Regions from separate parts of the Homo sapiens genome. Here region 2 is linked to region 1. Evidence: fine-mapped expression QTL. A gene starts in region 1. The other region holds a variant in brackets. All regions are shown on one strand. Distances are from middle to middle.

Region 1 (2,906 bases):
GAAAGTACTCACACACGTTTTTCAAAGTTAAGTCTTATTATACCATATCAATGTATAGCTTGTAGTATACCTGTATCTCTGAGTAAAGTATTAAAAACAAGTCATATGACTGTTTATTAATGCTGCCTCTTTTTGTATTGATTCCACCCATCCCTTCTACTCCTTTCCTCTTCTGTAAAGCAGTAGCTCATCAGATGGCATTTCAGAACCCTGAGAATATGAAAGACATCATGCACTAAGGTTTTCCTATCACATCTCAATGCCATTAGGTGAATAACACCGGCATGCATCTTCACTACTAAATGTCATACAAACAAATTTCAGTTGTTTCACATGCAACCTGTGTGGCTGCTGCAGTTTGTATCAACTATGTAACCACAGGGTGGGCAAAATAGCATTCAAAATGAGCTATAGTGCAAGATACCATCCATACGTAGAGTTAAGCCCTTTCATGCTTAGCAGTCACAATCAGGATATCTTTGGCCCACAGAAACCTATCCTGACTGGAATTTTCCTCTCCTGTGTGTCTCCTGGATATAGTAAGTTCCTAATAAACATCTCCTCTGATTGCTAGCCTTGACAAATTTCCAGGAGAACCAGGGCAAGGAGAAGACAGTGAGGCAGTGCCCGCTGCTCTTCAGATCACCAACAGAATAGAGTCAGAATATGATATTATTGAAACCTTCCAAGTTTGAATTAAGATAAAAACAACTTTTTCAAAATACCAAAAACCTTTTATTTAAGAAAGTGAAATCGCTCGATGTGCCCTCCCACTCTGGTTAGATGCTCAACAGACCACAGCAGACAATGCACCTCAACCAGGGCTAAGTGTGCAAGAAAACTGAAGTACACAAAAAGCAAATTATAGACTCAGGTACTGTCAGGCACAAAAGAAGAACCAACCCTTTCTAGGAGTCTTGTCTTTGCTTCCTTTATTCTTTCCTCGATTCTTGTAATTGAATGTTACAAAGTATATCAAGAGGAATAAACGTATGGGGCCCCTCTCTTCCAAACAAGAAAAGGTTAAGCTTTTAATTACAGGCCCTCAAACTATCATTTTGTGCAATTAGCAATTAACTATAATCGTTGATGAGCAAATGCAAAGCTGCGCTAGCAATTTCCCTTCTCCTCATCCCAGGCTGGGTTATTTCAGTCTTGTTCTATTACAGAGGACCAGCCACAACCGCGCGCACTCTCTTTCAAACATACACACTCTCTCACTTAAAGACACATTTAGTTTTCGGCAAAACGGCATCTCAGCGTGCGATTGAGACCGGCATCCCAAACCCCACTTTTGAGCAGCCCAAACGTTTGGAGCCCCTCCGCTTCATCACTTTCTGAGTGGATAGAGGAGGCCCGAAGAAGATGCTACCTACCAGCCTCTCTCAGGGGCGCAGGAGAGGGTGGTAGAGAGATGCTTGTTGCCCCTGGAAACTGCAAGTACCCCCCAGGTGCACGCCCCGTCAGTGGGGAGGCGGTGGCAACAGCAACGATAGTTGCATCAGCGCTAACTGCTGCTGCTGCTGCGTGTTCTGCCGGAGGCTGCCGGGAGGGTACAGTAATGACTGTAGGGAGCGCACAGCCGCTGCGGCGGCAGGTTCCCTGGATCAGGAAATTAGGACAGGCACCCGGGATTGGAGGCGAGGGCGGCGCGCGAGCCAACCAGCGGTCGCCCCGGGCCCCCGTGAGCCCCAGGCGAACGCGCGGAGCAGCCGGGCCCCTAGAGCGGTCCGGGTGGCGGCGGCGGCAGCCACGACCACGACCGCGGTCACTCACGCACGCTCACACTCGCACGCTCCCCGCGCGGGCACCCGGCTGCCCGGCGCGTGCAAGAGGAGCGCGTCGAGGGAAAGGAGGGCCGAAGCCGCCGCGCTCCCGCCCGCCCGCCGCGCCTCCCGTTGACCACGCCCCCTCCGGCCCCCTCCCCGCTGCTCACCCCGCTCTCCGGCCGCCGCCGGTGCGGGTGCTCCGCTACCGGCTCCTCTCCGTTCTGTGCTCTCTTCTGCTCTCGGCTCCCCACCCCCTCTCCCTTCCCTCCTCTCCCCTTGCCTCCCCTCCTCTGCAGCGCCTGCATTATTTTCTGCCCGCAGGCTCGGCTTGCACTGCTGCTGCAGCCCGGGGAGGTGGCTGGGTGGGTGGGGAGGAGACTGTGCAAGTTGTAGGGGAGGGGGTGCCCTCTTCTTCCCCGCTCCCTTCCCCCGCCAACTCCTTCCCCTCCTTCTCCCCCTTTCCCCTCCCCGCCCCCACCTTCTTCCTCCTTTCGGAAGGACTGGTAACTTGTCGTGCGGAGCGAACGGCGGCGGCGGCGGCGGCGGCGGCACCATCCAGGCGGGCACCATGGGCACGTCCGCGCTCTGGGCGCTCTGGCTGCTGCTCGCGCTGTGCTGGGCGCCCCGGGAGAGCGGCGCCACCGGAACCGGTGAGTGAGGACGCGCCCCTCCGCCGGCGGGCGGGACCCAGCCGGGGCACCGGGAGACCCCGAGGCGTAGGTCTCCGTTTGCCCACCCGCCTCCTAGGAGGCGCCTCTCGGTTCTCCTCGCCTTCCCTCCCTCCCCTCCGTGGTGGCGCCTCTGAGCTGTCAGCGCCGAGGCTAAAGGGAGCCGGGCTTGGGGAACAGCGGGGTTCGGGGTGCCCCGACGCCTCGCCTGAACTAGTCTTCTGCCCCTCACTCCGCCTCCCCCAGAGCCGCTGCTTCGCCTCGTTTCTCGCCCTCTTGACGGGCGCCGAGGTGCGTGGGCTTCTGAGCATTGAACAATGGTTCTGCCTCCTCTGCCAGGCGCAGTGTTGGGAAGGAGGCAGAGGGCCAAGACGTGTGCGGCAGCCTCGGGCGCACCCTCGAACCCCGGGGAGTGCGGGAGCGGACGGGGGGAGAAGGTGAGCGCCTCCGGGGACGCGGAGCGCCAGGG
Region 2 (2,906 bases), 28 kb after region 1:
CATGAGTGCCTTAGCATTTCCTGAATTGCAGGCTTTTAACAGTTTTCTTCTGGCTTTTTGGAGGAGAACAACAAAATGGTAGCCTCTTTTAATATTTTCTGTAATGTGAGTAATATTTCTTAAGTCATTTGCTTTGAGAATCTCAGGTACCCTGTTAGTCCCCAAAAATGAACGTGGATACAGGCTCTGCATGCTGCTTCGCAAGGTTTATGGTGACCCCGTTAAGAAACCCTGCTGGGGAAAGAACCGTGAAAGTAGATTATTAATTCATTAGATATTTTTAATGGAAGCCAGAGTAGTAGTGGCTTGTCATGTAATGACAATTCTTTTCCTACCTAGACCTTATAAAAAGTCGCCTCTATTGGCTTGATTCTAAGTTGCACATGTTATCCAGCGTGGACTTGAATGGCCAAGATCGTAGGATAGTACTAAAGTCTCTGGAGTTCCTAGCTCATCCTCTTGCACTAACAATATTTGAGGTAAGATGTGTCTCACATCAAAGTGTGTACCTTTGAGCTACTATATCACTTTGAGAAGAAATAACAGACATAGCGGGAGGAGGGAAGAGCAGCTGAACATGGCTTGAGAAACTGCTTTCACTTAAAACCTGGTACAAATCAGACACTAAGTCCCAGAAGCACTCCACACCTAAACTTGATTCTTTTACAGTTTTATATCCAGTGTCCCAGTTCAGCATTCAGTAAACTTAGTCCATTAAATGAGAAGTAAATGATGATGACCTTAGAAATGGACTTGTGTTAATCCTGGATGTACATGCTAATTGTGGGCTTCTGTTTTAGGATCGTGTCTACTGGATAGATGGGGAAAATGAAGCAGTCTATGGTGCCAATAAATTCACTGGATCAGAGCTAGCCACTCTAGTCAACAACCTGAATGATGCCCAAGACATCATTGTCTATCATGAACTTGTACAGCCATCAGGTACCGTGGAGAAGCACAGTCCTTAATAACTACTTTAAGGGAAGCAGCATGACACAGAACCTGCTGGATGTCAGTAGCTCTTGGCAACTCAGTTTTCTTTAAAAGGGAACTTTTGCCCTCCTGTACCCTACCTTAAACATTTCACATGTTATTTTTTTATTTCTGCTGCCTCAGAGAAATGGCTTCTCAACTTCAGCTCCTGGCTTTCCTCCCAAGCCTCAGTGTCAGAGCTTTTATTTCTGTTTCATTCATGTCCCCTTGGCCTTCAGCCCCTCTTGCCAAGACTATTGCAGTAGCCTCCAAAGTAGCTTTTGTGCTACAAGCTTTCTCTACTGTTAGTTTGCTAGGATTTTTGCAATGAAGTACCACAGACTATCTTAAACAACAGAAATTTATTGTCTCAAAA[C/T]TCTGGAGGCCAGAAGTTTGAAATCAAGGTGCCAGGAGGGTTGGTGCCTCTTGAGGGCTGTGAGGGAAGGGTCTGTTCCAGGCCTCTTCTTGGTCTGTTGATGGTGCTCTTCCCCCTTTGTCTCTTCACATCATCGTCCCTCTGTATATGCTCGTGTCCAGCTTTCTTGCTTTCTTTCTTTTTCTGTTTTTTGGAGACTGACTCTTGCTCTGTCACCCAGGCTGGAGTGCAGTGGCACAATCTCGGCTCACTGCAACCTCCGCCTCCTGTGTTCAAGCAATTCTCCTGCCTCAGCCTCCCGAGTAGCTGGGACTACAGGAGTGAGCCACCACGTCCAGCTAAACTTTGTATCTTTAGTAGAGATGGGGTTTCACCATGTTGGCCAGACTGGTCTCGAACTCCTGACCCAAAGTAATCTGCCTGCCTCGGCCTCCTAAAGTGCCGGAATTACAGGCGTGAGCTGTAATAACAGTCATATTGGATTAGAGCCCACCTTAATGACCTCATTTTAACTTGATTACCTCTGTAAATATCCTATCCTCAATATCTCCAAATAAGATCACATTCTGAGGTACTAGGACTTCATTATATGAATTTTAGGGAGGAACACCATTCAACTCATAACACCTACTTTCCCCCTGTGACACACCTGATATAGGATTGTGTAGATTCTCAAACACATCGGGTTATATTATCTCCTGCTGAAAACACTTGGCTGGTTCTATCTAAATAAAGCCTTCAAACCTTCCTAAGGCTGAGTTTCCTTCCACTTTGTTGGAGCAAGTCAAGAGAAAACCAGGAGAACATGCCTAGTCTCCTTTCTCTGAGCCTTCACGCTAAACCTCGGGCAAATAGTGAGAGCCAGTCCTGGTCCCTCACCTCCCTTCCCCACCTCCTCTTTTGGCATCTGTCTCTTAAAGGCATAACTTTTACAGTCTATCTCGAAGAGGTCCCTTATCTGGTGTCCTTAGAGCATGCTGCCTGTACCTGTATACTTATTCTTCCTTGATACTGTTCTCACTTGAAGGATTAGCAGAGTAGACAAGTTTAAGCTCTTGGGGGCAAGGACTCAGGTCTTCAACATGTAGAACAAGGCTTTATATATACTAGGCACCGGAATACCCATTTTAATGGTATTTTTTTTCCTGACTAGGTAAAAATTGGTGTGAAGAAGACATGGAGAATGGAGGATGTGAATACCTATGCCTGCCAGCACCACAGATTAATGATCACTCTCCAAAATATACCTGTTCCTGTCCCAGTGGGTACAATGTAGAGGAAAATGGCCGAGACTGTCAAAGTAAGGCATTTTGTGTTTCAACCACAAGTAGAACCTACAACAAGCAATATAATAAGACACAAGCTTGGATTTTTAAGAATTCTGTCTTAGCTAATTCTTTGAATAGATTTGAGAAGATATCTGCTATTGTATGCCGGGTTATCATGTCATTTCTTTAGAACTGACTTTAACCCATTTCAACATTAAATGAGTTTATAGGAGACTAAAGTGTCAACATACCTTACACTAATTTGTACCTAGTCCCTTAACAGCACTGAG

The links.
Region 2: its variant is fine-mapped to the expression of VLDLR in blood mononuclear cells (TOPMed, PIP 0.92).

Annotation. Positions count from the first base shown.
Region 1 is chr9:2,619,853-2,622,758 of GRCh38, forward strand. VLDLR (very low density lipoprotein receptor) reads left to right here and starts at 1,935. Exons shown (of 19, transcript NM_003383.5): 1 at 1,935-2,419. The coding sequence starts at 2,338. VLDLR-AS1 (VLDLR antisense RNA 1) reads right to left here and starts at 2,521. Exons shown (of 4, transcript NR_015375.2): 1 at 2,248-2,521. RefSeq lists an enhancer at 1,477-1,771 and silencers at 1,650-1,729, 2,340-2,609, 2,880-2,906.
Region 2 is chr9:2,647,869-2,650,774 of GRCh38, forward strand. VLDLR (very low density lipoprotein receptor) reads left to right here. Exons shown (of 19, transcript NM_003383.5): 13 at 340-479; 14 at 801-942; 15 at 2,502-2,648. It overlaps LOC105375957 (a long non-coding RNA gene), which reads right to left. Exons shown (of 3, transcript XR_929436.3): 3 at 1,316-2,906. Among named protein-coding and RNA genes, the nearest start is that of VLDLR-AS1, 27 kb to the left of the region's middle. The variant C/T (reference allele first, on the strand shown) is at 1,349.